7 linked regions of the Homo sapiens genome follow. The protein of the gene in region 2 purifies or fractionates together with the protein of the main gene of each other region. This does not show direct contact. Each region holds a gene or a part of one and is shown on either strand. Other genes may lie near its edges.

Evidence for each region.
Region 1: the proteins of WSB1 (region 2) and PNPLA6 purify together in Homo sapiens (affinity purification with mass spectrometry, with the first as the bait; one large-scale study listed by BioGRID). This does not show direct contact.
Region 3: the proteins of WSB1 (region 2) and COPG2 purify together in Homo sapiens (affinity purification with mass spectrometry, with the first as the bait; one large-scale study listed by BioGRID). This does not show direct contact.
Region 4: the proteins of WSB1 (region 2) and ARG1 purify together in Homo sapiens (affinity purification with mass spectrometry, with the first as the bait; one large-scale study listed by BioGRID). This does not show direct contact.
Region 5: the proteins of WSB1 (region 2) and FRYL purify together in Homo sapiens (affinity purification with mass spectrometry, with the first as the bait; one large-scale study listed by BioGRID). This does not show direct contact.
Region 6: the proteins of WSB1 (region 2) and HRG purify together in Homo sapiens (affinity purification with mass spectrometry, with the first as the bait; one large-scale study listed by BioGRID). This does not show direct contact.
Region 7: the proteins of WSB1 (region 2) and BTBD10 purify together in Homo sapiens (affinity purification with mass spectrometry, with the first as the bait; one large-scale study listed by BioGRID). This does not show direct contact.

Annotation. Positions count from the first base shown.
Region 1 is NC_000019.10:7,534,389-7,539,006, reverse strand, and holds the start of PNPLA6 (patatin-like phospholipase domain-containing protein 6), read right to left. Parts: upstream 3,291-4,618; 5' UTR 3,219-3,290; coding exon 2,987-3,218; intron 2,817-2,986; coding exon 2,734-2,816; intron 2,559-2,733; coding exon 2,461-2,558; intron 1-2,460. UniProt on the Homo sapiens protein: Phospholipase B that deacylates intracellular phosphatidylcholine (PtdCho), generating glycerophosphocholine (GroPtdCho). This deacylation occurs at both sn-2 and sn-1 positions of PtdCho.
Region 2 is NC_000017.11:27,307,484-27,311,589, forward strand, and holds part of WSB1 (WD repeat and SOCS box-containing protein 1), read left to right. Parts: intron 1-260; exon of another isoform or gene 261-1,616; coding exon 1,617-1,789; intron 1,790-2,577; coding exon 2,578-2,691; intron 2,692-4,025; coding exon 4,026-4,106. UniProt on the Homo sapiens protein: Probable substrate-recognition component of a SCF-like ECS (Elongin-Cullin-SOCS-box protein) E3 ubiquitin ligase complex which mediates the ubiquitination and subsequent proteasomal degradation of target proteins.
Region 3 is NC_000007.14:130,505,502-130,509,113, reverse strand, and holds the end of COPG2 (coatomer subunit gamma-2), read left to right. Parts: intron 1-454; coding exon 455-552; intron 553-1,290; coding exon 1,291-1,429; intron 1,430-1,741; coding exon 1,742-1,840; intron 1,841-2,307; coding exon 2,308-2,438; 3' UTR 2,439-2,876; downstream 2,877-3,612. UniProt on the Homo sapiens protein: The coatomer is a cytosolic protein complex that binds to dilysine motifs and reversibly associates with Golgi non-clathrin-coated vesicles, which further mediate biosynthetic protein transport from the ER, via the Golgi up to the trans Golgi network.
Region 4 is NC_000006.12:131,571,417-131,576,260, forward strand, and holds the start of ARG1 (arginase-1), read left to right. Parts: upstream 1-1,809; 5' UTR 1,810-1,866; coding exon 1,867-1,923; intron 1,924-2,549; exon of another isoform or gene 2,550-2,876; coding exon of another isoform or gene 2,877-2,879; intron 2,880-4,844. UniProt on the Homo sapiens protein: Key element of the urea cycle converting L-arginine to urea and L-ornithine, which is further metabolized into metabolites proline and polyamides that drive collagen synthesis and bioenergetic pathways critical for cell proliferation, respectively; the urea cycle takes place primarily in the liver and, to a lesser extent, in the kidneys.
Region 5 is NC_000004.12:48,542,621-48,546,726, forward strand, and holds part of FRYL (protein furry homolog-like), read right to left. Parts: intron 3,652-4,106; coding exon 3,447-3,651; intron 2,285-3,446; coding exon 2,163-2,284; intron 1,378-2,162; coding exon 1,187-1,377; intron 1-1,186. UniProt on the Homo sapiens protein: Plays a key role in maintaining the integrity of polarized cell extensions during morphogenesis, regulates the actin cytoskeleton and plays a key role in patterning sensory neuron dendritic fields by promoting avoidance between homologous dendrites as well as by limiting dendritic branching.
Region 6 is NC_000003.12:186,675,822-186,679,148, forward strand, and holds the end of HRG (histidine-rich glycoprotein precursor), read left to right. Parts: intron 1-1,201; coding exon of another isoform or gene 1,202-1,225; coding exon 1,226-2,062; 3' UTR 2,063-2,413; downstream 2,414-3,327. UniProt on the Homo sapiens protein: Plasma glycoprotein that binds a number of ligands such as heme, heparin, heparan sulfate, thrombospondin, plasminogen, and divalent metal ions. Binds heparin and heparin/glycosaminoglycans in a zinc-dependent manner.
Region 7 is NC_000011.10:13,460,302-13,464,995, reverse strand, and holds the start of BTBD10 (BTB/POZ domain-containing protein 10), read left to right. Parts: upstream 1-1,773; 5' UTR 1,774-1,904; intron 1,905-2,006; exon of another isoform or gene 2,007-2,374; intron 2,375-4,694. UniProt on the Homo sapiens protein: Plays a major role as an activator of AKT family members by inhibiting PPP2CA-mediated dephosphorylation, thereby keeping AKTs activated. Plays a role in preventing motor neuronal death and accelerating the growth of pancreatic beta cells.

The sequences.
Region 1 (4,618 bases), on a different chromosome or scaffold from region 2:
TCTCTGAGATGGCCCCTCCACTAGGCATAGGCCCCTGAGCTGAACCCTTTAGGAAGGCAGACCCCTGACATAGCTTCCAAGATAAGGGTAGGCCCAGAAATGGTACCTGTGTTTATCATGGGGGTCCTGAAACGGTCCTTCCAGTAGTCACAGAGTAGATTCCTGAGATAGTCCCCTTAACGTGAGTATGCCTTTGACATAGCTTCCAATATATGAGAAGACCGCAGATACAGTCTCTCTGTTCTACATAAACATTCCTGAGATAGACCTTCCTCCCAGTCTCAGAGAACCTTGAGACAGCCCCTCTGACAGCCACAGAGGTCCCTGAAGTAGCCCTCATTATAAGTGGAGAATCCAGATAGCCCCTCTGCTAATCGTGGACCTGGGAGAGCCCTTCCCCACAAGTCACAGTGATTGCTGAGAAAGACCCTCCGCTGGCAAAAGATCCCTGAGATAGACCTTGGAGGATGGGACCCTGAGTTAAACTCAGTGAAATCAAGAAATTCAGATATAATTCCTTTTTTGGCTGGGCGTGGTGGCTCATGCCTGTAATACCAGCACTTTGGGAGGCCGAGGTGGGAGGATTGCTTGAGGCCAGGAGTTCAAGACTAGCCCAGGCAACACAGTGAGACTCCCATCTCTACAAAAAAATTTAAAAATTAGCCAGGCATGGTGGTGCATGCCCATGGTCTCAGCTACTTAAGAGGCTGAGGCAGGAGAGATCTCTTGAGCCCAGGAGGTAAAGGCTGCAGTGAGCTGTGATTGTGCCACTGCACTCTAGCCTCAACAACAAAGTGTGATCCTGTCTCCAAAATAATAATAATAATTATAATTGTTATGATTATTCCTTTTTTGATCAGGGAGATCTTGGGCTAACTCTTCCCTAGGTCACAGAAAGCTCAGACAGCCCTCTGACAATCATGAAGATATCAGGGTAGTCCCTTAAGAGTGTGCAAACACTACAGACAGCTCCTGTGATGTGGAGAAACCTGAGGTATAGACCCTCAACTGATCATGGGGAACTTTGAGATAGTCCTTCTACTCAACTCACAGAAAGCCCTGCCATTGGCCGGGCTCAGTCGCTCATGCCTGTAATCCCAGCACTTTAGGAGGCCGAGGCGGACGGATCACAAGGTCAAGAGATCGAGACCATCCTGGCCAACATGGTGAAACCCCGTCTCTACTAAAAATGCAAAAATTAGCTGGGCATGGTGGTATGAGCCTGTAGTCCCAGCTACTCGGGAGGCTGAGGCAGGAGAATCTTTTGAACCGAGGAGGTGGAGGTTGCAGTGAGCCGAGATCGTGCCAGTGCACTCTAGCCTAGTGACAGAGCAAGACTCCATCTCAAAAACAAACAAACAAACAAACAAAAAAGAAAGGACTGCCATTGCAGGACTATTGATCATGGAGAGCCCTGCCCTGGTGTGAAGAAACCCTTGAGGCAGACCTCCAGGTAGACTACATGACGCACAGGGATCCCAGAGCCAGCACCCAACTTGCAAAGAGAGTTGGAGAGCCTTTCTCGCAGACCTTGCTGCCAACAGGGATCTCTGATGCATCCTTCCTATATTTCTAGTGCAAGAAAATTCATAAGATAGCCCCTAGGGAACAGAAACTCCTGAGACAGCCTCCTTAGTGTGGGAAGAACTTCAAGGTCCATAACATAGGAAAGATGCCTTCTGATGTACAGAGATGCCTGAGATAACCCCCGGAGAAGAGAGGCTGGAGGCTGGAGATAGCCCCTTTAGGAGATCGTAGAAACACAATTACCTCAGTGAGGTACCCTGGAAGAAAACCACTCATGTGAAGAGACTCATGAAATAACCTACATGGAAACCCCTGATGTAGACCCCCCCACTAAGTATATGGCAAGACCTCTGAGATATTGACTTGGGAACAAATAGCTCAGATACTCCAGTGGAAGGAGAAGGTCACTGAGGTAGCCCTCAGGGAAGAGATACCCTAGAGACAGCATGTCTGGTGTGGAAGAGCTCTGAGAGGAGAGTCCAGAGATGTCTCTCTGAAACAGGAAGACTTTCTTCTTCTTCTTCTTCTTTTTTTTTTTTTTTTTTTTTTTTTTGAGACAGAGTCTCACTCTATTGCCCAGGCTGGAGTGCAGTGGCATGATCTCAGCTCACTGCAACCTCCACCTCCCAGATTCAAGTGATTCTCCTGTCTCACCCTTCTGAGTAGCTGGGATTACAGGCCCATGCCACCACGCCCAGCTAATTTTTGTATTTTTAGTACAGATGAGGTTTGCCATGTTGGCCAGGCTGGCCTCAAACTCCTGATCTCAGGTGATCTGCCCGCCTTAGCCTCCCAAAGTGCTGGGAATTACAGGCATGAGCCACAGCGCGCAGCCAATATGGGAAGACTTCCACAACACTTTGGTGTAAGCTGATTACTCAAAAGGCCCCTGAGATAACCCCTAATACCAGGTCACACCCAGCACAGCCTTACTTCTTGGCAATGTTGAGCATCTTCAGTTTCTTCCTCATGCGTGGCCGGGAGGTGGCGGAGACAGAGGTATCCACGAGGGAGGAGGTGGATTGTGACACCTGGGAGAATGAAGGCGGAGATGGGTGAATTGCTAATTCAGACCTTGGAGAAGAGGCAGACGGATCCAGGGGGTCTCCATCAAGGAAGGAGCGGTGGCGGACACTAAGAAGTGTAAATAGGGAAGGGGCGCGGCCTCTGTGTGGTCAGGGCGGACCCCAGGGGTCCCGGACTCACCTTCCGCATAATCTTCCGGCCATAGAAGAGCACTTTGTCCCTCTTCCGGAACCGATACCGGGGGCCATCCGGGGCTGGGGTTTCTGGGGATAGGTGGGGACAGGGGCACTCCGAGCTCTGTGCAGACTCCACCCTGCCAGAGCTGGGGTACCGCGAACAGACGCCAGCAAATCCCCATCTCTGCCGCCTCGGGACCCGGGCATTTGGGCCCCCCACCATACAGCCTCCCAAGAGGGGCCCCTCGGGTGCTCACTTGGCACTCGCAGCCTCCGCACCACCAGGAGGATGAGCACGGCCGTGACCACCACCGCCACTCCGGCCCCGATCATCACGCCAAGCACCTGAGGGACGAACGGCACTGGCTGCGCACCGCAAATCCGTCCCGCCGAGCCTTCCCCGGGCGCCAGGACGTCCTGGAACCCATCCCTCTCCGCCACCTTCGCCCCCGAGGAGTTCGTAGCCAGCCCGTGACTCGATGTCCCCATCTGCAGAATGGGCCAGTGCTGCTCCCTCCCCGGGGGCGCGACTCTTCCCTGAGGCCCGGCGGCCCGCAGTGCATGCCGGGAAACGTAGTTCCGCCCGAGCGGACGCAGCGCGTTATCGCCAGACCACGTAATGCGCGCTGAGCACGCCGGGAGTTGTAGTCCTCTTGGCGCCCCACGCCGGCACCTACCCGGTCTCCGCCCCACCCCTTACCATTCCAGTTTGCAGCGGAGCCTCCATCGGTTGATTCCAGCTGGACGGCCGATCTGGTAGCCCGGAGTCCTGGGAAATCAAGGAGTCGAAGGAACCCGTGCAAGTCGTCAATCTGGGCCCACCTCTCCCCTGCCTCAAGCCCTGCCCCCAGCTCAAGCCCTGCCCTCTGGGGTGGCGGGGGAAGCGTCTCCAGCTGCCAGGGGCGAGGCTAGAGGGGCGCTGCGGGACTAAGGGATGGAGCAAACCGACCTCTCGGCCCTGGCCAGGAGATGAGGCGGGTCCCCGGCTTCCTGCTCCCTTCGCCTACGCGTAGGGCCTACCAGACGCCCGCCTGTCCAACCCCACCCCGGGGCCAAAGGCCGACCTGGTACCCACTGTCAGCAGCCTGCAGGCAGGTCCCCACAGGGCACGGTCCTCTGCACCTGGTGACTTCCTCCCGGGTCACTGCCCTCTGCAGGGTTGATCAAGCCTGACCACCCCACCCCCCAGGCCGCACCCCCTACTCCGTCGAAGACTGAATGCCCCACCCCAGGAAAACGGGCCCGCAAACCGTGGGGTCCGGGAGTGGGCACCTAGATACTCGGCTCCCGACGCAAGCCTGCCCCGGGGAAGACCCAGGAGCTGGGAGGCACGGGAGTACTGCCGGGGCATCCGCGGAAGGCGTCTGATACCCACGTTTCAGAAGAGTCCTGGGATGCTTGGGGTGGCGTGGGCTTGCAAGGCGCTGCTGGTTTTTGCCGGGGATTTACTATCACGTAGTAGTGAAGTTATGGGGGCTCTATGGCACAGAGCATCACTGGGACTCCGGGACCGATGGTGGCGCCATTGCTGGGAGGCGTAACCAGAGACGCTGGGATTAGTGGGTGGGGATGCGGGGTCACTGGAAAGTTACTGAGATTCTGAGGATTACAATACTACTGCTGGGAAAACCAGGAGGTGGGTGGGCACATTCCTGGGGTGCTTATGAGAGCGGGCCTGGGGAGGGCGTCCGGGCTCCTTGGAAGATACTGAGAGATGCTGGAATATTACTGGGATTTTTCTGGGAAGCTGAGGATGTTTCTGACATCGCTAGAATATTAATGGAAATTCGGGGGCCGGGAGATAGGAATCCCGGAGACTCCGAGTCGTTACTTGGAAAATTCCTGGGTGGCCGGTCCTCTTCCACCTCAGGGCACAGCTGGCTACCGGT
Region 2 (4,106 bases):
TCAAGTATTTATAAAATGGTTGAAGTCCAAATACATGTGATAATTACAATACACTTTGAATTAATGGAGGGTGGGAGGCTAGTTGAAATGCATTTTATTTACCCAAGGAGTATGTTAAAATGATAGTTATAAATGTTGGAAGTTTAAAGCAAGATACTCAGTTTAGTTCTTTACAAATCATAAGAAGAACAAAATTAGATGTTGACATTGCTATTTTAGGCTGTGTGTTTTCCATATGCTTCTTGCTTTCCCTGTCACAGGTGGTGGCAGCAATATTGGTGTGATTGAGGTTATGCTGGCACCACTCGCACACAGGCGCACAATGGTGTTAGCTGGGCAGAAAGAGTGGCATCTCTGGCTACCGGGCTGGGGGCGACCTTTACCATAGGATGAAGTAACCTTGCATTCGGCTGCAAGGTGTACTGTACGTACACAGGTGCTGGTCGATGTCCACTTTCTGCTTTTCTTTCTTTCTTTTTTTCTTTTTTAAAGTAATTTCCCCCACAGTAAAATACACTGACTCCTGAGTAAATTGATTTTCCAGTTTTATGGAATTGGGAGTCTGACAAGTGAAACCAATTTAATGTAAAGTATTTGGCTTTCAAATGGTTTCTCTGTGCTATTTTTTGGAATTCTTTCAGATTCCAGAGATATCTTACGTCTTTGATTCAATTTAAAATTTGTACTTATTTTCTTTTAGAAATAATGTATTGTGTCTGTGCAGAAAAAAAAAAAACCAAAAAGGATTGCTTTACTCCAAGAGGAGAGATTGTCTTAGGATAAACCTCCAAGCTCACATTTAATATAACAGACTGAAGTAAACATTAGAATCCTGTTTAGAGCTATTCTGCACAGTTAACTACTGATCTTTAGAATCTAAAATTGTATATGAACTTATTCTTAAATAATTGAACCGTTTTATATTCAAATGACTTATGATCGTGGTTAGTTTGGGAAAAATAAGATGGTTAAATTTTGATTTATTGAAATGTAATTGTATTATTTTCATAAAATAGCATTTTCATTTTGTAATGTGGTTTAACATCCTTGTTGTTTGCCAAAGAAATTTCATTTGGCTGTGAATATTCTATTTGCTTGCAGTATCTGTTTCTCTTCCTAGGCTCAAGTTGGTGACCCAAGCCTATTGTAAACAAGTGATTATCTCAAAGGGAGATGCCAATGGAGTAACAATTTGTTAACCTTACGTTTTCTGTCTGTATATTTTTTTAAAAATCTGGTAGTTTCTGGAAAAAAAAGAGAAGGGGGTTTGTAGTACTTAACCCTATTTATTTCCGTATATTTTAGTTAATTAGTTTTTGGAATAAATGGATTTCAGTATAGCTTTGTGGTTAAATTGCATTGCCTTTATTTTATGTTTAGGCTTATTTTTAAATTAACATTTAACAGAAACATTTGAAATAGAATTTGCATGTCTGCCTTAATTAACTTAAAGACTGATTTTAATCTGACTATGACACTGAGCATATTCTTTAAATTACTCATAATTTATAATGCTTAATATAATCTTAATTAAATTTAGCAGTTTTAGTATAAGATGTGCCATTTTGTCCTCTGTATGTCTGAATGAAGCTATAACATTTGCCTTTTTATTGCAGGTTTTCCTTTGGAATATGGATAAATACACCATGATACGGAAACTAGAAGGACATCACCATGATGTGGTAGCTTGTGACTTTTCTCCTGATGGAGCATTACTGGCTACTGCATCTTATGATACTCGAGTATATATCTGGGATCCACATAATGGAGACATTCTGATGGAATTTGGGTGGGTACAGCATGAATTATTTTAGTCTATAATTCATCTCCACCTATCAAGTTATGTGAATAATTACAATCACCAATATATGCAACCTAAAATTACAGTCTATTCTAATTTAAAATGTTGGTATTATTTAAGCCCTTGACTAATGGAAAGCCTTCGATATAAATTCTAAAAGTAAATTTGGCTCTCTTGATACAAGTCTTGCTACTTAACAGTACCCAGCTCTCTATAGAAGTACTAATTATGTTTAGAGTTTTTGTTGGAGAAAAACAGTTAAAACCAAAGTTGGACTTAATCTTACTGTCTTAAATCATAAAAGATTTTTTTTTTTTTTGACAGAGTCTTGCTCTGTCGCCAGGCTGGAGTGCAGTGGCGCAATCTCAGCTCACTGCAACCTCCACCTCCTGGGTTCAAGCAGTTCTCCTGCCTCAGCCTCCTGAGTAGCTGGGCTTACAGGCACCTGCAACCACCCCTGGCTAATTTTTGTATTTTTAGTAGAGATGGGGTTTCACCATGTTGGTCAGGCTGGTCTCAATCTCTTGATCTCGTGATCCACCTGCCTTAACCTCCCAAAGTGCTGGGATTACAGGCATGAGCCACTGCGCCCGACCATAAAAGATTAGTTCTTTTCAGGTGACTTTAATTTGGATGTATCATCTCTACTGAGTCTTCTCAGTTATATTAATTAAGGCTACTTTAAACACTATTCAAAGACAGATGTACTTTGTACCTGGGTAATTTTGTTTTCTTGAAGTGACTGATATCCACTGAAAACATATATTTGACCTCAGGCACCTGTTTCCCCCACCTACTCCAATATTTGCTGGAGGAGCAAATGACCGGTGGGTACGATCTGTATCTTTTAGCCATGATGGACTGCATGTTGCAAGCCTTGCTGATGATAAGTAAGTATGTGCATTATAGCTTGACTGACTTACTATTACCTTTTACATTCTTAAGCCTTAAAGCCTTTCTGCAGTTAAGAGTTTTAATGTCTCTTCCTCAACACAAGCCCCTGGGAGATTTTGTTGTGTCTTAAAGAATATCGGCCTGAACAATTATCTGTGTAAACTAAAGATAATGCATGCCTCTCCCTGTGTTCCTTGTTTAACTTGTTTAGGCATAGTGGGTTGATTTTTAGTCAGCTTTTAGCCCAGCTTACAGAGATTTTTTAAAGTAATGTCTTAACAAAGGTTGAAGCAGAAGGAAATTTCTAAAGTGAAACAAATAGTAAAACCAAAAGAATTACAAATAAATAGTAATTTGTATCCACCATGATTGAGATTAGAATATGAAATGTCACATGAATGATATGTGCTGCTTGTTGGTAAGAAGCAGAAACTAGTTGCAACCATCTGTGTTCATGCATATAGCATTGAGTAGTTCGGTGACGTCAATTCATAAGGCAGCTCTTCTCTTCCCAGAATGTTAGCAAACATATGGAGAGAGGTTTTTTTTGTTTGTTTGTCTGCAACCATTGTTTCCTGTTTGCTCAGATAGATTCTGCATGTTAGTTCTCTGCTGTATTTGTAGACACACTCAGCCTGGGTGAAAAGCTTTTTTTCCTTTCCTGGTTTTTTTTGTTTGTTTATTGGAGACAGGGTCTTGCTTTGTTGCCCAGGCTATAGTGCAGTGGTGCAATCACATCTCACCACAGCCTTGATTTTCTGGGCTCAGGTGATCCTCCCACCTCAGCCTTCCGAGTATCTCACACCACAGGGGTATACCACCACACCTGGCTAGTTTTTTTAAAAAATTTTTTGTAGAGACAGGGTCTCCCTATGTTGCCCAGGCTGGTCTTAAAAGTCCTGGGCTCAAGCAGTCCACCCACCTCGGCCTCCCAAAGTGGTGGGATTATGGTTGTGAGCTACCAGGCCCACCTAGCTTTTAAAAATGTCTTGGGAAAAGGGTGAAACAGACTAGAAGTTGATTGTATTGTAAGTGTAGGAAAGTAAGGAGAAAGTTTCCGGGTGTGAACATTCTAGGTTTGAACACTGGGAAGGAGGGAAGGCAGCCATGCATTGTAGTCTCTTAAGTGAAAGTTTATCCAATTTACCAACTGATATTATAGACCTTAAAATATTTTGTAATTGTATAAAGCAAGTTATTATAATTGCCTGTTGGTGTGATGTGTGTATTTTGTGACTCATAACTCAATGGCATTTCTTTCTAAATTTTAAAAAAGTTGCTTTTACCTTACATTTTCTACAAGATACTAAATAATTTATTTCATTTTCAGAATGGTGAGGTTCTGGAGAATTGATGAGGATTATCCAGTGCAAGTTGCACCTTTGAGCAATGGTCTTTGCTGTGCCTTCTC
Region 3 (3,612 bases), on a different chromosome or scaffold from region 2:
TATTGAGATGCTGATGAGATTGGTCAATGTTAATCTGATGATCTGTATGCTTTTTACCACAGGTTTTTTTTTTGTTTTTTTTTTTGGTCAGGTCCTACAGCAGTGGTTCTCAAAATATTTATTTTTCAACATTTAGGCCCCTTTGATAGGCATGGCAAAAAGCCCCCAAAAGTACCTCTCTGCTGCTTTCTTCATACCAATAGAGAAACAGTCTGCCCATGTTATCATTTCTGTACTGCTGTAACCCACAGCGTGGAATAGACTTTACATTCATGCTTTGTGAGACTGCCTTCCTGACCCGCTTGTAGGCTGCTTTTGAGAACCACTACCCCAGACAACAGGGCATGTGTGTTTAACTGGAAAATGTGGAACACAGTGCTGAGTACAGATGGAATGATGGAAACGTCTCCCTTGCACTCCCCACTGATGCAGGTTTGCCTCCCTTCTCCTCCAGTTGCAGGCTCCTTTAGCTGCACCATGAAGTTTACAGTCCGGGACTGTGACCCTAACACTGGAGTTCCAGATGAGGATGGGTATGATGATGAGTATGTGGTGAGTCTTCCCAGCATAGAGACTTTCTTTGACACCTTCACAACACTAAGTGACTTCTGCCTTGAGAGAACATTTTTCTAGGAGCATCTGACATAAACTTAAGGGATTTCTATTCTTCTGAAACAGATGACAAATTAGGAGGACCTGGACTAACCCTCCTCTGTAACTGGACAGCACCAGGCCAGAGAGAATTGAGATTTACCACTTCATCATTAAAACAAACTCACCCTTTTTTTTCTTTATAATAGGGATAATTAAGAGATGAAAATAATGACATGATTTTCATTGAGATCAGTTTTATTTAAAATGATTTGGGGAGGGGGTTGGTTTTGTTTTTTGGTTTTTTGTTTTTGCTTCAGCAGCTGTTAGTTTATAGCCAGATCATGGATTAAAAAGCCTTCACAGAATGGAGGGAAAACTTTTTTTAAAAAATATCAACCTCTTAGTGAATGATCAGAGGGTACCGTGTGCCCAGAACTCAGTGGTCAAGTGTGGGTGCAACATGACTACTCTGTACCTCAGGGCTACAGATGTTGATCTGAGGCTCTTGCCAGATGTTCTGTTTTCTTGCTTTCCTTTGCTAAGGGCTACAACATTAGATTTATCCAGACTACAGAACTTAAACTATTTTGGTGGTAGAGTTTTCTCTAGGCTCCGGAGGACCATATTGACTAGTTCCTTTATCTTTGCCCTATAACAGAAAGGACTTTTCTTTACTGACTGCTTATTACCCACTAGCTGGAAGATCTCGAAGTGACTGTGTCTGACCATATTCAGAAAGTACTGAAGCCTAACTTTGCTGCTGCTTGGGAAGAGGTGGGAGATACCTTTGAGAAAGAGGAAACCTTTGCCCTCAGTTCTACCAAAACCCTTGAAGGTGAGACCCATTTTGCTATCAGTATATTGCCTGATAACAGTATAACACCTAACAGGCATATTTGTTACTCCAGAAGAACTCCTTTAAAAAAAAAAAAACTTCATAAATCTCTTACTTAAAAGGCCAGCACCCTGTCTTCATCATCTAATTGATCAGCCATTTTCTAGTCCAGTAGTAGCCTCCCTCTACACATCACCAACAACCCCCTTCACCAACAAACCCTTCCACCCCAGCTCCCAGCATACACTGGTGCAGAGGGAGATCCCTGTGCTTTACTTTCCTAATACTGTCTCATACATCTTCTCAACACAGAGGCTGTCAACAATATCATCACATTTCTGGGCATGCAGCCATGTGAGAGGTCCGATAAAGTACCTGAGAACAAGAATTCCCATTCGCTCTATCTGGCAGGTAAGAAGCTTCCATCAGATTTTCCTTCCATTTTCTTGCAAAGCTTAATAATAGGATATAGATGGGCATCTTATGCCTTGCTGTTGTCCCATCATCCCATTATATGAGTAACAATTTGATACCCAGTCAAAATGAATAATTTGTTTTGCATGCTATTCTTGGTTATTCTTTTAAGATGTACATTTGGCCCAAAACAAATCTCTCCAACAGATACCAAGGCCACCACCAACATTCCTTTTGAGTACTCCAAATTGGTATTTTTGAATACCTTCTATGTACCTGGTTTCATGGGAATATAAAAATATATATATTTGGAATTTATGTTTGTTTAGGATTCAGTTTCCACAAGTCTCTGGAAAAGCTAAACTAAACTAATAGAAAGGAGATGCAGGGATAGCATGATAAATTTCATTATCCAGTGCTTGTTTTGGGTTCTTAATATGGTTTTCCTTACTTTTTTCTCTCAGGTATATTCAGAGGTGGCTATGATTTATTGGTGAGGTCCAGGCTGGCCTTAGCCGATGGAGTGACCATGCAGGTGACTGTCAGAAGTAAAGAGAGAACACCTGTAGATGTTATCTTAGCTTCTGTTGGATAAATGCTTACTGGACAAGAGGAAACTGATGCACACTACATGGTCAGTGGGCTTTTAGGCTAGTGGCATCAGTTTCCCAGAATCAGACTTTTGAAGATGAATGACTTTGGAGAAGCAAATTAAACATTTGGCCCTGAGCCAGCAGATCAAGCAAATGTCTATCTTTGCGCATGGGTTGTTTTTTTTTTTTTTTCTTTTTATTCTACTTGGTCAGCTTTGGGACGATAGTGCAGCTTTGGGTGATCTTGAAAATCAAATACTATCCTATACTCCAGCTGCTTAACTTCATTTTATTCTTTAATGTGTACCTGAAAGCTCCTGGCAATGCTGGAAAATTTTTATCCCAGAGGGGTGGGGGGGAGGGGGGAGGGGAAGCCAGAGTCCACTTTTGTCACAATTCATTTTTATTAATAGAAAATAAACACTTATTCCAGTTTCAAAGTTGTTATACTTGAAGTTGCTAATTTAAAAAAACGAATTTTAAATAATCACTTAATAATCCTGCTTTGACTAAGACAATGAAATGTGGCTTTAAAAAAAAAGTATTCAGCACCATTTGCTCATAGGTCTTTCAGAGTTTGTTCTTAAAGTTTCTGGAACTTTCCTGTCTGTAAAGTAACAGGAATTACTGAGCTACATTGGAAAGCCTCTCTGGGACAGGCAGTGGGGAGTTAAGCAGTCATCATAAAGGAATCAGTGTACATTCAGCATGGTGACTTGACTACACAACAATCCCTTCCCCTCTACTGTAGCTCAAGAGAGACATGCTTCTAACCACTGAGGTATGAGGAGTCTCAGACTGTTATTTGCTGTTAGAATTGGTCTTCCCAGCTAATAACAGTACATCTCTGGCACAGATGCTATTGGTCCTTAATGTCCTGTGATTTTAGGAAATAGTTTGGATTTAGTTCAATTTATTCAGAAACCAAATGTGTTTAATTAGCTTCACTACTCTGGCAGAGTAAGGGTATGCTGGTTTAGTATCTTTATAAAATATATATAATGTATAGGTAAATCATAGTCTTAAATCATACCTAAAATACTGTATCATTTAAACCAATATCTATTTTAACAAAATGTTTATAACTAAAAACAGCTGATGAAACACTAAATCCAAAGGTATGACAAAGAGGACTCAGCTCTGTGTTGCTTAAAGAACTTTTAAAAGGCATGTGCC
Region 4 (4,844 bases), on a different chromosome or scaffold from region 2:
AAAAAGAAGAGCAAAACAGTTACTCTTGCCTAAACAATGATAAGATGTACCGCAAAACTGTATTGATAAAACCTGATGGATCTGGTGCAGCCATAGGTAAATAAGTCAATGGAACAGAAGAAAGAGTTTAGTGACAGACAGCACTCCAATCAATTGCAAAATGAATGACTATTCAATGGGTGTTGTTGAGGAAACTGATGCATGAATGATAGAGGAAAAACGAGTTGGAAAATTTACATAACATACAAAGATGGATTCAGGAACTAAGTGAGAAAGATAAGCTCTAAGGCAAATGGAAGAAAATGTAAAACTACATACCTACAATTTGATGGGGTGGCAGGAATTTAATAAGACTTCCAAAGCACAAAGCATTCGGGGGAAATTATACAAGTGTCTATTTTAAAATTGAGGATTTTGAGTGATAACATATAAAAAGTTATCAGATTTCTGACAGGTTGGGAAAAGTTATTTGCAATGTCAATGCTATAAGGTTAATATCTAGGCAATATGAGGAATACCACAAGTAAATATTTAGGATATACAAGCAAACCCACAAGAAAAAGGTAGGAAACCTATTTGGAAAACAGTCCTATCAAAATGGACCCATGAGACTTTGGTTTCCTCATTTATCCATTCAATAAATATTTATTGAGTGCCTATTATACACCAACACTCTTCTAGGCCCTGGGGATACAGCAGACAAAATTCTCTGACCTCATGGAATTTAAATTCCAAAATGTTCTTTCCCACCAATAGGAAAAAGAAATTAGTTTCTACTAAGTGAATTTTCCCTTTAAATTACAATTACATAATTTTAAAGTCGGAAGGATCTTTAAGGTGCCTTTATTTTAAATTCATACTTTTGTATGGTGACAAATGGTAGCTCAGGGGCATAGAGGTTGACACCTTCCCAGCATTTAGACTATAAGCTCGACGGTTAAGTGGATTCAGAATGGCAGAGACTAAATCCCGACTTTTCTTCTACAGCCTATGTTGGCAACGGGTCTGAGCTTCAGTTTATTCATCAGTATAATGGCACCAATGATGAGACTTCACATAAAATTGGTATAAATATAAATATGGTATTTTGAAACAGAACTGCATCGGACACATGGTAAAAACTCAATGTTAGCTATTTTTATTTCTATACTTTGATTATGATATGATTCTACAATTATTTTCCTGTACACCATACTTCAAAAATGGTAACCTCTCTGGGTTACCAATCAAGTAACTAATTTTTTAAAGTAATCATCAAAAAAGGAAGTTATATACTCTTTATTATATTATACCCTAAAAGTTTATGAAATGTGTCTCATGGATTAACCATTTACCCTCATGTGTGAAATCTCAACTCAGGATTTTAGGGCTGGAAGGGATGTGACAGACGATCTTGCCAAGCCCGGCCCTTCTTCTACAAGGACGTCTTCAGAGATCTGGAGGAGGAAAGGGCCTTGCCCTGAGTTCGCTGAGCCAGAACAATAGGACTTCTTCTGTAGTTGTGAAACTTGTCAGTTGTTGAAGTCAGGTTAATGTCATCTGGCTGGCTTTTTAAAAGGGTGTGAAGTGAGAACATGAATAATTGTCACTTGATTAGAGACCTAGACTCAGAGTTAGGTTACTCCATGTATGAAGTAACCCCATATAGTTACTTCATACATGGAGTAACCATATAGTTACTCCATGTATGAAAAATTGCAAGACTGTTGACTGTCATTCTTTGGTTTAGTGGGTGGAGCCAGCTGTCCTCATTAGATAAAGGTTGTTTATTCAACCCAAGTATAAATGGAAAAAAAAGATGCGCCCTCTGTCACTGAGGGTTGACTGACTGGAGAGCTCAAGTGCAGCAAAGAGAAGTGTCAGAGCATGAGCGCCAAGTCCAGAACCATAGGGATTATTGGAGCTCCTTTCTCAAAGGGACAGGTAAGGAAAAAAGTCTTTCTTTGAATTCCTGGAATTTAGTTGAAAATTTTGGACTTCAAAATTTGTAAGGTGTTATTGTCTAGTTAGTTCAGTTTTCTGATACAATCTGGCCAGGAAATGCATATTTTAAAGTCCTCTCACCATTTTCCAACATTGTATAATTATAGTCACATATCCACTTACTTTTGTGGCTCGTGATCTCAGCCAAGGCTAAATTCATTTGAACCTACAGAATGTTTTCTCATATTTTTTAGGAGAAAATATTTTTCTTTGAATTGAAATGGACTCTTTCTGCATTGTAGCTACTCATTGAGGTTTAGTTGCTCTTGTTGTTTTTGATGTTACTGTGTGTATGTAGAGGAAGAGAGAATTTTAAGAAATACATTTGTTTAGTTATGTAATTAATGCCTAGAAAAATTTAATAGTTTGGTGGTAACCTTCAGGCTTCTTATAATTTGGATAACCTAAATATTATTGTTTCATGCAACTTTGTGAATAATTCATGTTATGTTAGGGTTTTAATGTTTCTATGAAACTGTTCATTCATGGACTAGGTAGAATCCTTTATGTGCCTCACTTGGAAGGGGAAAAAAAGAACAAAAAAAGAAAGAAAATCCTACTGCGGGTTGGCAACTCTAAAAGGATTTTAATGGATTTATGAAACCCCCAGATTTCCTTACAGCCACGAGCTGTGAATCCACACATGCCAGCAACATTGAATACACTTTTTTTTCTGCCTGGGCACACTTATTCTAGTAAAGAGAGTGTGATGACAGAACACCTTAGACTTCAACACGCATCTGTGCTTAAAGAGGATAAAAAACAAAGAACAAAATCAAACAAGACAATGTATGAGTTGAAACTACTAAGGTTGATTTTCTCCAGGTTTCTCAGGATCTGGGCAGCGTTTTGCTTCCTCTTAATTTGGAACCCTTGCTGTGTACTCTGACTTTTTACTGCAAAACAAATTGAGAGAGGCCAGAGGTTAGAGGCCCAAACTGCATTTGGACTGTCAGTAAATACTACTTTGCTTCCCCTGGAAATCCTCCAAAAGTCTCTCCCAAACACAGGGACATTTTGCTGACACAGAAATGTTCCTTTTAAAATCCACACTGTTCTCACCCACTCTTGAACAGGTTATAATAAATATATAATTTAAAAACCTCACAAAAGGGAAGCAAGTGTCCTCCTTCTACCACCCTCCTCCCATTAAAACATGGTCATGAGAATGGAGTTCATTGTCTCATGATTGTAAGGACTAAGAGAGAGAGATTTTTTACACTAAGTCATAGAGTAGAGAGGATAAAATGGCCAACATATAAGTATTTGTCCTCACCTAAAGGAGGTACAAGTTTGACAAATAAGCAAAAGGAAAGGATTAGAGGGCAGATGACTAAAATGTTGAGTCTGAGAAAGGGCTTCATCCCTGTCTCACCTCCTTGAAAGGCTTGCAAGGCAGCGAACAAACAATAAGGTAGGTATTATTTTTACCTTACAGTTGGGTTAAAAAAAAGCCCAGAGAGGTTTGGTAATGTGCTCAACGTCACACAGCCTTGACTGCATAATTCCAGACAAGATAATCTGATTCCAATGCCTATGCCCTTGATTTGCACTGATGTCTCTTCAGACTATTCAACTCCAAAGGCGACCTTATACTTGTGGCCATTTAGGGATTGGGCCCAGCTTAGAAAGTCGGTGGAGCTGACAAAGCAATTTCCAAAGTGGGCAGATAGAGCAAGCAAGAGGAAAGCCCAATCATGAGAAGCCATTTGAATAAAACAAATAAAAAAGAATTCTAGAAAATTTAATGGCTGTGTTATAGCAAATATAGTGTCAACTAAGGGGTCTATGAGCTTTGTTCTAAAATATGAAAGGGAGAAGGGTAAAAAAGCCAAGGAGTTTTATCAAACTGAGTATTGAGTATCTACTATATGTCAGCTCTACACTACAAAATATAGTGCCCCACATGTAAAGCAAGCTGGACTGAAATCTAACAATGAGGAAAAGACAAAAACAGACACAAAACTAAAGGCAAAACATGAACCAAGCAGCACCCTATTGGGGTTGAAAGAAGGAGAAATCATGTTTACTTGATTGGGGAGAGGCAGGTGTGTCAAGCAAAAAGGGAGTAAAGAAGCAAAATGTGTCAGGCAGAGGATAGGGCGGGTCCCTTGCTGCCAGGGACAGGAATTTAACATCAAGGATTTGCCTGGCACCCAGGGCAAGTCTTCTGTTCCTTTGAATGGGGAAAAAATACTTGCTTACTTTGATGCCACAGCCCCAATCCTAAAGATAGACACACGTGTCTTTTAACACATTGTCTCATCTGACAACATGTAATAATCTTCTGCATCTAAAAGCTCTGTTGGAAATTAAAATCAGAAAGATACAGAAAGGAACTGTGCCTTTAGACCTCTAATTGTTCAGGGGACTGAGGAAGACTTGCCCCTTGGAGGAAGAGTGTTAGTTTCCCTAATGTCAAAACGGCAAGGGTAGAACTTCCCATCATACTGTTAAGCAGGCCAAAACTTGAAATTACTGGGTTGGTCTTTGTTTGTAGTTTTCAGCTCCCAGATGATGACTTTTTCTGTTGCCTGCTTTCTCCCCAAGAGCTCTAGCTTACTTATGTGAGTACATGCACGTAGGTCTCTTTCATGTCACACTCTTTCGATGCTTTTGCCCAATCGTTCCCTTGGTTTGCAGAGTTTCTCCATCACTCTGTCTTGTTTTCCTAACTACCTACTCATGTCGCAAGACTCAGCTTAAACAGCATTTATTTCTTGCAGCCTTTACTGACACACCCTGTCCCCAACAGTGTTAAGGGCATCCTGTTTTTGTTACTAGGACATTTTATATCATCACTGAAGCAGCTATGTATTGAAACTGGAGTTAAATGCCCATATCTCCTATCAGCTTATGAG
Region 5 (4,106 bases), on a different chromosome or scaffold from region 2:
GGCCAGGGTGGTCTCGAACTCTTGATCTCAGGTGATCCACCCGTTTCAGCCTCCCAAAGTGCTGGGATTATAGGTGTGAGCCACAGTGCCTGGCTGAAAATATCACTTTTAAAATACACATTAAAAATCTGACCACTTTCCTCTACCTCCATAACTTCCCTTAATCTAAGCTACCACCATTTCAGCTGGACTCTTAACCTCCTGCCCTCTCTTGCCTCCACTCTTGCCCTCCCTACAGATTTCACCCCAATGTCAGAATGAGTTTTTTAAAAAAGAAATCACATCCATCACCTTCCTTCCCTCAAAATGTCTGAGTAGTTTCCCATCAATTCAGAGTGAAGTCCTGCCTCTTACCAGGGCTTACTAGGCCTTACGTGATTTGAACCTACCTACCTCATCAATTTCCTGCAACACATCCTGCAATGTATTCTAGCGACACCAATTTTCTTGATGTTCCTCAGAAAAGCCCTACTGCTTCTGCCTCAGGACCTTTGCACCTGTTAGTCCTATTTTCCTATGCCTGAAATATTCTTCCCCAGATCATAAACAGAACCTACTTCATTTCAGTATCTCTTCAAAAATCACCTTCTCAGATGGATTATCATATGTAAAACAATTCCTTCTCCTTTAATCTTATTATCTTATTATATTCACAGCATTATCAGTAGGATAAATTATGTTATGTATAATTGGAAGACTAAAGGTTTGTTTCCCTCAATAGAATATGAGCTCTAGAATGTTAGGAACTTTGTCTCATTGATCACTGTATCCCTGATATTTATAACAGCGTTAATAAAGTCATTCATCTGTACAAACTGAAGTTCTCTAGTGCAACAGTTCATTTATCTTAAAGCATAAAATTCAATGCTCCACTTTACATTTAAATTTAACTTCCTATCTTTTTTACCTTGTGATCATCCCAGGTTAAGATCTTGGGGGTGGGGTGTTGTGTGAGTGGGCGAGTGTAAAGCTTTTTCTGATAGGCACTAGAATAGTTGATTTAATTAGTAGGTTATTTGATATTAATTACAAAACTAACTTTGTCTCTTAATTCTTTGCCTGCTCAACATCTGACTATAATTCTAGATGCCCATTATCTTGCTCTAGCTATAGCAATCTATATGGACAATAAATCCTTGACAACTAGTAGCTGCTCAATAACTGCTGAAAGAATATAAGGAAATACCTGTGCATCTTCTCCTGGATCCCCTACAGTTTCTACAAGTCTGGAGAGAACATCAGAAAGTGTAGTTGCAGTGAGAGGCTGCTTTAGGGCCCTGAAAATCTGAAAGGATCTCCCAGCATAGTGTCGAGAAGAACAGGAAAGTGCTGTTTGCAGAGCAACTTCACTAAGATGATGTTCCAGATGAATTCCTTCTGTGAATGCAAAGGAAACGAGTAGGTTGTTCTTGTTCTTTAGAATACTAATGGGGTTATAATCAGAAGTGAATCATCTTAAAGCTAGCAGCTAGCACACTTCCTGGCTCTCACATTTTATAAGTCAATGCTTTTTCTTTGCTTAAACTCCATTTGCATTTTAGATGACCCTTTAATCTTTACGGAAGCAATCCTTCAGACCAGGGTTTCTCAACCTTGGCACTACTGACCTTATAAGCCAGAAAATTCTTTGCTGGAAGGGCTGCCCTGAGCAGGGTATGATGTTTAGCAGTGTCTCTGGCCTCAACCCACCAGATACCAGTAGTAACCCCTTGCCCCCAACCCATAACGGTGACACTGTCTCTAGACATTGCCAAATGTCCCCTAGTTGAGAACCACTGCTCTAGACATATACAATTTGACTATGATTTTCAGAATGTGTTGAATTTTAGATTACTGAAGACTATACCAGCACAATTTTTTTTAAGTTTCCAATTTCTATATACGTCCGTTTAATGTATTTTTTCATAATACGCAATTGTATTGTAATTTTATGATGCCATCAAACACAAAACTAAGGAGCCTAGCATTTCATAGATAGCACTCATTTTTAAGTAGTAACTTAATTTTTCTTCAGTGAAAACAGATCTGTTATCATTAATAAATTAAAAGTCTAAAACTTTTAGAGGTATCACAATATCAACTATTAACTTTTTGCTAAGCATTATCAGAAATTGACATCACATTAAAATGTCACTAAAACTAAAATATTTCTTAAAAGATACCTGAGCTTGACTGCTTAAAAACAGAAACCACATGTTTCAAAAATGTAGTTAACTGTTCAGCACTCTTTATGCTAGGATTCTTGGCAGAAACATCCTCATGGTTCCAAAGGGGCCCTCTTTTTCTGAAAACAGAGAACAGATGTAATTTCCTTGGATTTTCACTTGTGATTAACAGTTGTACTCACACTTGCCTAAATTACACCTTTACAATTAGAAAGGATGGTAGTTGAATAAATAGGTCACAGTCTACTACTACTTAGGCACATGAATATGTAATGATCTACAGCAAGGAGAGAAAGATCTCATTTCAGTGTCTAGCAACAGACCAGTCAAATTCTCTCAGACGTAGTAGAAAAAGATGCCAAATTTTGCCAAGTGTGAAGCATATTGGTTACTGCTTATGTGTTCCAGGTCAAAATATAATCTGTATTTAGATTGTAATGCAAAGAAAATAATTTGCTGGTGAAATGCAATGAGAATAATTTACTAGCTAAAACTACAGGGAAAGTTTAGGACAGAGTAATGTCCTCTTGATTCTTTCTTCAAAACGTCTTTGTGTTCTTGGCCACCACCTCAGTTAAGCTCTTTATTAACACAGGCCCAAAGTGCCCTGAGAACCTGCTACGCACTGCTTCTGGTTCCTTCCACCTCTAATGCATCCTACACGCTGTTATGGGGCTGATTTTCTCCACATACTTATTAAATGATGCCTCCCACCCTCCTCCCAGCTTAATGATTTTCAATATAATCTACAACCTTATGGCCTGGGCTTCATGGCCCGCCAGTTTGAACTCTCCCAAGCTTTCCATAATTGTCTAGAACAACTCTCTTTTCTCTGCATTACAGTCAGAGTGGATTCCTCACCATTTCCAAACACATGGTTTTCTTGTGCTCCTGTGATTTTGTTCTTGCAATGGAATACCATGCCCTTTCTCCCCACCTATATTCCCTCTCTACTTATTGTGTCTTGCAAAGAGTAGACCATAAATAAATATTTGATGACTGAATGATAATGTAGCTAATAAAAGTGAAATATATATTCAGATAATACTCATTCTCTTTGGCCATTAAATAGCCAGATATGATTAAAGTCCTGAGGTATAACTGCACTGGCACAAAAGAGTCTTTGATTGCATCCTAATTTTCAAAATACTGTGCAATACAAACCTGTGTATTTCACATCAATGGTATTTCAGACAACAAAAATATGGCTCATAATACCTGATCAATGAAAGAATGACTTAACACATACACTGCTGGGATGATAAGAGCTGCCAGTGTTACCTTGAGGTAATGAATTCCATGAGGGTTTTGACTTTTCCATCCTGCTCCACTGAGATGTCAACCTCATTGAGGATAGTGGTGTGCAGATGTGAAATGGCAGCACTGTTATTTCCTAAGCTGATACTAGAAGAGGTAGAACTTGAGCTAAGCCCTGAGTCAGTCATAGGGGAGGGCTGGTAATCAGGTATAAAATCGTTAATGCCTGCTGAAAGAGAAAGATCGTCATGAATACCTAAAACATGAAAGAATCTCACAAAATACCTATAGAATTAAACTGTTGTTCCTTAGACTCTATGGGACACATGAGGCAATCTGTCAGTGCAAGGTGATGTGAATCAGTGCTCCTGCTGATCCTCATGAACACCAAATTACAGCAAGTAAGTTTTGGGGCAAACATTGTTTCACAGCTTGAAAACTTAGCAATTTGGATGTACTATGCAGTCCTCTGCCGCCATCTGCTGAAGAAACTTGCAAGTGGCAGTTTCCTAATATTCTGGCATATTTTGTCAACATCGCTTGTCAGTCACATTTCTATAATATGAACTGATTTTTAACTTTTTATAGAAAATTTTCTATAATTTTTGATCCATTTCCATTGCAGAAAGGCTCATCTATCTGAAATACACATAGTGCATCAATCATTTTTTAAAAAACTGTTAA
Region 6 (3,327 bases), on a different chromosome or scaffold from region 2:
AAAGGAACAAAGGGCAGGATTGTCACCATGAACATGGCTCTGTCTTTTTTTTTTTTTTTTTTTTTGAGAAGGAGTTTTGCTCTTATTGCCCAGGCTGGAATACAATGGTGCCATCTCGGCTCACCACAACCTCTGCCTCCTGGGTTCAAGCGATTCTCCTGCCTCAGCCTCCTGAGTAGCTAGGATTACAGGCATGCGCCACCATACCTGGCTAATTTTGCATTTTTAGTAGAGAAGGGGTTTCTCCATGTTGGTCAGGTTGGTCTCAAACTCCTGACCTTAGGTGATCCACCTGCCTCAGCCTCCCAAAGTTCTGGGATTACAGACATGAGCCACCGTGCCCGGCCTCTGTAGCTATTTTTTAAAAAATTAAACTCTGAACAAGGAAGAGAGAGAAGAGGTCAAGTGTTCAGCCTTTAGGAGTAAGGGATGTTGATACCATCAAGCCTCAGTTAAGAATATCAGTTATAAGGCACTAGTTTTCCAGTGTTGGTCTACAGATGGGTGCCAGGTCATAATATTGTTTCACCACTCTGTGTAGTAAAAATGAAAAAAAAATAAGGATAATGAAGTTTTTTATATCTAACATTTATCCATCTAAAGGACAATCCTTTACTCTGATATTGTGTTTCTGGCTCTTTCTTTTTTTTTTAAATCAAAATTTCATTCCAGGCTGGGCATGGTGGCTCATGCCTGTAATCCCAGCACTTTGGGAAGCTGAGATGGGTGGATTACTTGAAACAAGGAGTTCAACATGGTGAAACCTGTCTCTACTAAAAATACAAAAATTAGGAGTCTGGGCAACAGAGTAAGACTATGTCTCAAAAAAAGAAAAAAAAAAATTAGGTGGGCATGGTGGCTTGGGCGTGTAGTCCCAGCTACTTGGGAGGCTGAGGCAGGAGAATTGCTTGAACCTGAGAGGTGGATGTTGCAATGAGCAGAGATCGCACCACTGCACTCCAGACTGGGTGACAGAGCGAGACTCAGTCTCAGAAAAAAAAAATAGTTTCTTTTGTGAAACAATGATGGTGGTAAATGATAGTTATTGTTAATATTTTAAATATCAACTGGGCTAGATAACAATTTGAGAATCTTTTTTCGTAATACTTTTTAAATTGATTTGTGGAATCTATGATCTGGGAGCCATTGGTGTAAATCAAGTCAAGTATCTAACATCTTCTTTTATGTTACATGATGATAGGCACTTTTCTGTGACCTTTTCCAGGAACATGAGAACATCAATGGTGTACCGCCTCATTTGGGACATCCCTTCCACTGGGGTGGGCATGAGCGTTCTTCTACCACCAAGCCTCCATTCAAGCCCCATGGATCTAGAGATCATCATCATCCCCACAAGCCACACGAACATGGACCCCCACCTCCTCCAGATGAAAGAGATCACTCACATGGACCCCCACTTCCACAAGGCCCTCCTCCACTATTGCCCATGTCCTGCTCAAGTTGTCAACATGCCACTTTTGGCACAAATGGGGCCCAAAGACATTCTCATAATAATAATTCCAGTGACCTCCATCCCCATAAGCATCATTCCCATGAACAGCATCCCCACGGACACCATCCCCATGCACACCATCCTCATGAACATGATACCCATAGACAGCATCCCCATGGACACCACCCCCATGGACACCATCCTCATGGACACCACCCCCATGGACACCATCCCCATGGACACCATCCCCACTGCCATGATTTCCAAGACTATGGACCTTGTGACCCACCACCCCATAACCAAGGTCACTGTTGCCATGGCCACGGCCCACCACCTGGGCACTTAAGAAGGCGAGGCCCAGGTAAAGGACCCCGTCCCTTCCATTGCAGACAAATTGGATCTGTGTACCGACTCCCTCCTCTAAGAAAAGGTGAGGTGCTGCCACTTCCTGAGGCCAATTTTCCCAGCTTCCCATTGCCGCACCACAAACATCCTCTAAAGCCAGACAATCAGCCCTTTCCTCAATCAGTCTCTGAATCATGTCCAGGGAAGTTCAAGAGTGGGTTTCCACAAGTTTCCATGTTTTTTACACATACATTTCCAAAATAAAATGTGATTCCTTTGAAGAGGAAAATGAATAATACATTGAATTAGAAACATAAATAAAATGACCAGTAATTGTGAAAATTACAGTTCTTTTCAACCTACTTTCATACTGAAGATGCAGCAAAATGTGAATGGGAAAAGAGATGGCCTGAGAAGAGAGATCAAATGGAAAGGAGAGGAAAGAACTCAGTGCTGCCTATTAGTAGTTAATTCTGTCACTCACCACTACATCACTTGAGACAAATCTATGCCACTCAGAATCTCCTTCTTTCCTGGACTTAACTCTAATTCTAGAGTCTCTGTTACTGCTTGGGCTATACCTGGGCATACTAATAAAGTATGGTATTGAAACTATTGTTATCATTTATTTCATTTTATTTTCTAAGTTCCAGGGCACATGTGCAGGGTGTGCAGGTTTGTTATATAGGTAAAAGCATGCCATGGTGCTTTGCTGCACCTATCAACCCATCACCTAGGTATTAAGCCCAGCATGCTCTAGTTCTTTTTCCGAATGCTCTCCTGCTTCCCACCCTCCCCCTATTTATTATTATTAAAGTGACCTAAATTCTCTCCTCGTGATTATTACTAGGCATCTAAATTTTCTTTTGGAAAAATAAGTTCTAAATTCAGTATTGAAGCAAACAAACCTCTGGCTATAAATTGCAAAGAAGCTTGCTAACATGAATCATGACCATAAATTCAGGTGCATAAGAAATGTCACTTTATGCTCAGAACAAATTAATTTCTATTTGAGGATGCCATCCTACTGGCTTAGTGGAAATTTAACCCCAGTCCTTCTTGGAGTCCCCTTTCCCTGCCCTGCTACTTTCCACACAAAGTTGGGCCACAGTTCTAGGATCTCACACCATGCCAAGCTGTCCAGGTGGTAGGAAGCAGGATAGTGACTATCCCTCAGCCAGGGTGACTGTTGGACCAATGATCATCATCATGAGTGATAGCCATCCTGCTCAGGGATAGTCACAACCCTGTTCACATCACTCTTTCAGTCTGATTTATCTGCTACTTCTGTAGAAAACTGGGGGTGCAGGAATGTCTGTACACTAGCCATGGACATGACTGCCAAGGTATGGCATATGGCTGCTCTCTCCCTGGGATCTTGCTGTCTTCCCAGCTGCATGCCCAGAAAGCAGGGCAGAGATCTCCTCTGCCTCAGAGACCCCTTACCTCACTCTTCTCCCTATACCTTCTCCCTCAGCTAACGACTCTCTTGCTAGTCTCAGGTAAGTTCACTTTATTTATTTTTAGGG
Region 7 (4,694 bases), on a different chromosome or scaffold from region 2:
TGGGAGGAGTGGGGCGGGGGTGGGGGGGCGCCACACACTTTTAAAGAACAGATTTCACCAGAACTCACTATCACCAGAATGGCAAAAACAGGGAAATCTGCCCCCATGATCCAACGACCTCCAACACTGGGGATTACAATTCCACATGAGAGGTCAGGTGGGGACATAGATCCAAACCGTATCAGCAGGGTTAGAATAACTTTTTTGTTTTCCTCCTAAGTGTTGGGCTTATTCGTAGGGAGAGTATGGTAAGCCAAATAAAACTATAGTATACATAGTATTTTTCATATAGTATACATATTTTTATATGTAATATGAAAATAATGTGTCCAAAGGAAGGTGAGTGGAAACTACAGCAAAATACCAGAGTCTTTCTTTAGAAAAGGACAGCTTCTATTTTGATGTAAGAGTATGGCTCCTCATTAGCCCTAACTTGGACTACAGAATGACTTCTTCTGAGCAGAGCTTATAGGAGAAAATTTTGATAATAAATCAGGACTGATGACGTTTTTGTTTTTTGCCTGAGAATTTTCTCAGAGTTTCTCTGAGAAACTGTATCACAAAATTCCTATTAGATTGCTCTTATGTAGACAACTTGAAATTATTGGCAATTTCCAATTTAGCAAAATGTTGGCTATAATAACTTAGTGAATTACGACAATAACCCGTTTCTCTTAGGTTTCTGATATTTAAGTGTCCTTACAGGAGAAAGATGAAGTTATCTTATAATTGTCCAGCTCAACTGCTCATCTTCTTAGCATAAACACTGATTTGGAAAATACTTTGCGTATCACACGTAGGAGCCTGGGAATGTTCTCATCCGAACTAAACAGTGGTTAAAGGTTTTTCAACAAAGTTCTTGCTGCAATATCTGTTTTCATACCCAATTACTCAAACCAGGTCCTCTTCCTCTTTGCTTCCTCTCCTTGCAATGCCCTTCCCTCTCTTCCCTAAACTGGAGAACTTACTTATGCTTAAGATTCAGCGCAATTGTCACTCCCAGGTGAAGGCTTTCTCAACAAGGCCTCCCCGTCTGCTCCCAGAGCTCATGGCAAGCAGCTCGGCTTTTATCAGAGAATAATGGGATTATCTATTTTCCTGTAGGTCTTGCCCCGGGGGTGTAAGCTTCGAAGGCGGAGACTGTGTCTTTTACATTTTTTCCCGTTTTTATTGCCCAGCCAGCCCATGTAGGTGACTCTCGGTGTTTCCTAGGCGGCCAAACTGAAGGAGTTTCAGCTGGCACAGGGGTTCCCGCCAACCGAGCGTTTAAAAATAAGCAGCGGGGGACGTTAGGGAACAGAGGGTGTCCCTCACGACGACCGACTCTCATCAGGTCCACGCCGGCAGAAGCGATTTTGCAGTTTGCTTTGATGAGGAAAACGCTCTCCCTGAAGAGTCCCTGCACTATTTCTCCAACTCTGTGACCGAGACGCTGTCCACTTTTCTCTAACGGTGACAGGAAGTCAAGGGGAAAACGTGGGATTCAAAGGTTTGAAGGTAACAGCCCTCAGCCACTCGGGCTCGAGGCCCGCGGTTGACCCGAGCTGATGTCTGTGAGGAGAGGTCGCGCGGCGCCTTCCTCTCCACGCGCCTGAGATCCCACCCGTGGCCGCCGCGCCCTCAACTGCCTTCTCCTTCGGTGCCCCGCCCACCCCTGGGCGGAGAGCACCGTTCTCGCGAGAACGCTGCTGGCCTCGCCTCTTCGCATTGTGAGCTCTCGCGGTAAGAGGCTGAGGAGCCGGCCTGCAACCTGCCGGGGCGGCTCCGCTACGCGCAGCCGCCTCAGTGGCTTCCTCCACAGCCACCTCCGGAGGGATCTGGCTGAGGAGGAAGTGGAGGTGTCACTGGCCCCGGCCTTTGCCCCAATCTTGTGTGGGCACTGAAGGGGGACTACAGGTTCGAGAGTGAGTGGACTCAGCTGGGGAACTCGGCGGGGGCGGCGCGGGAGGCTGGGCTTGGCCGGGGCGAAAGAGGAAAGGGGCGGAGGGCGAATCTGGGCGTGAGAGCCAGGCTGCTGCGGCGGTGGTCTGGGCGGCCGGACCCTGCTCGGGTACCGTGGGTGGCGTTTTGGGCTCCGGCCACGAGCACCCAATTAGGAGAGGCCGGGATAAGACTTGAGTTTTGCGGCTGCTGCTTTTGGGTTGGGAGTCCGGGGGCCTTTCTCCGGGGATGAAGGCGATACCCTCATCCCTTTCCAGGGCAGAGGAACCCCGTGCCCCGCCCCTTTCCTGTCATCTCAGACGAACGCAGCGACATCCTGAGGAAGGCGCATCACAATAGGGGATAAGGTGGTGGGCAGCCTCCCTCTGGGTGAAGAGGAGTGAGACCCCACTAACGTGCTGCGTGGTTTTATGTTGTAACCATTTTACGTGTGGTAAAGCTTTGTTTTCTTAAAACTTGCACGGAAAAGGTTCTGATGTCTTTCTTCTTCAGATGCAGGTGCCCTGACACCCTTATCTTTGGGAATGGGGCGGGGGAAGGTGAGACATCGGTTAGTAATTTGTTAGTGTGGGCCAGTGTGACTGTCCCTGGGCCTCACAGATTTCCTGCTTCTCCTTTCTCAGTATTCTGAGTCCATGATGAAAAGTCACTAGTCCAGACATGCTGAAAGATAGAGCTTCACTTGCTTGTGGCTTTGTGCACTTAGTAAACAAGATTATTTTACGAAGATTTATTATCTTGCAGAGTTTTCATGCTTTTTATTTAAATTAGCAATCTAAATGAAACAGCACAGGATATTAATTGTATTTGGACAACTGAGTTCCTTCCCGCCCCTATCCTCCCAACCCCCCAACTACACAAATTTGATCAAAATCTTTTAGAGAGGGGGTTAGGGATAAATTTTCAATGAAAGAGACTGTGGAAATCGGAATAAGAGATATAATAAAGAATGCAGCCATAACGGCCAAAAGAGTTTCTGTATTAGAGAGCCTGTCCAGGATTGAAGTTCAGTCCTGAAACCCAGGACTGCAGTTGTCATTTGAATATAAAGCGGAAAGCAGTAGAAAATACTTGGGAAGGGATTTGAAAGTGGACCAAGACTGGTAAAAAAAAAAAAAAAAAAAGTGTGAGAAGAATTATTTCTGATGATGTAAATGTGTTTTATAAATTTTCCCAATATTTCTCAGCGTGTATGACCTAACAGCTATTATATTAATACATACAAAGTAGGAAGGAAGTTTCTGAAGCATGGAATGTGGTAAGGAACCACCAGAGAGTAACAGTGTTCAATCAGGAAAGCTTTTAGTGTTTCAACAATGTTTTTGTGTTCGTTCACCTTTTTTCTCACTCCCAGAAAAGCTTTCAGATAGACTTCTAACCCTATGTAATTATGTTACCCTTCCACCAGTCTGAATTTTCTTCTTTCTCACTCCCTCTAAGCCATGTGAATTTTTTAAATTATTAACTATGGAGTTGCAAACCACTGTGGTCTGCTTTTGGCTTTTTATAATAGGTGACTTAGGGAAGTATGGAAGTGATATGGAAAATATTGTGCACCTTTCAAAGCCATAGCATGAGCAACAAACTCACATGCCTTCGGGTACTAGTTAGATAATGAAAATGAGGGAAATGCACTATGCCTTATCAGAGAGACATCCAAGTCTCAGGTCCCCCTAATCAGTGCTATATAAGAATATGGACCCCATCTTCAGCATTCTCAAGAGAACTCGGAAATCTAGATTTTTGCATTCAGTGTCTTGCGTCTTAAAAATATTGACAACTAATTAAAACCATTAAAAATATCATGTGACTGAATCAAATCCAAACCTGTCCATAGTTGTATTCTCCTCTCCAGTTTAGAAGCTCTGTTATAAATCAAAATTAATAAATTTTATGACTGGAAAAAAAGGAGGTTTAAAGCAAGTTTGGAGTTTCAAACTTAAGGGGTCTTGGGAAAAATGTCACATCTAATTGAAAACAGTAGTTAAGTTTAATAGCCTTTAAGTATAGTTATAGTAGGGCAATTTGAACTGGTATTTACTATAAACGTTTTAACTGTGGAAATAACTGAAGAAAAAGCATCTCAGTATTTATGGTTTAAAAACTCAGAGTTCTGAGCAAAGCTGATTTATAGGTATCTTGTACAGAAATTGAATTATTTAGAAGCTCTTTATTGTATTTGCAGCTAATATATAAAATTAAATACAAGAGACCCTCTACAGTCCATTTCAGGATTTGAATGTTTATTGTTTGCTGTGCTATCCCACATTGTCTTCCTAGGCATTGACTTACTGGAAGAAATACTGATCCCTTGGATTTTATTCCATGCCAGATGGAGATTGGAGGGGTTTGGCAACAGGATGGAAAGAACTGGGTGGAGAAAGTGTGATGTGAAGCAAACACTCTTGTGCCCCTTCCTTACATTGTTCATTAAAAGATTGATTTGTGTTAGTTTTTCTTGTAAGAAGGATAGGTATATTAATTGATTAAACTTAGTGCCTTATACATAGTAGAGTTTAATGACGTGTGGAATTGACCTTTGTGGATTAAGCCTCATTTACCCATTAATGTGAAGTAATTTAATCACATAATCTGATTCATACCTAGTTGGGTTATGGGGAATGGGAGTGCTAGAGGTCAAAGCTAAGTAAGAGGTGTTTTTTAGGCATATAGAGGGCAAGTTGGGGGTCTTCACTTGGGATAAGGGTGAGAGAGGAAGTTAGGTAAGGGAGAGAATTTTGAAAAGGAAGATG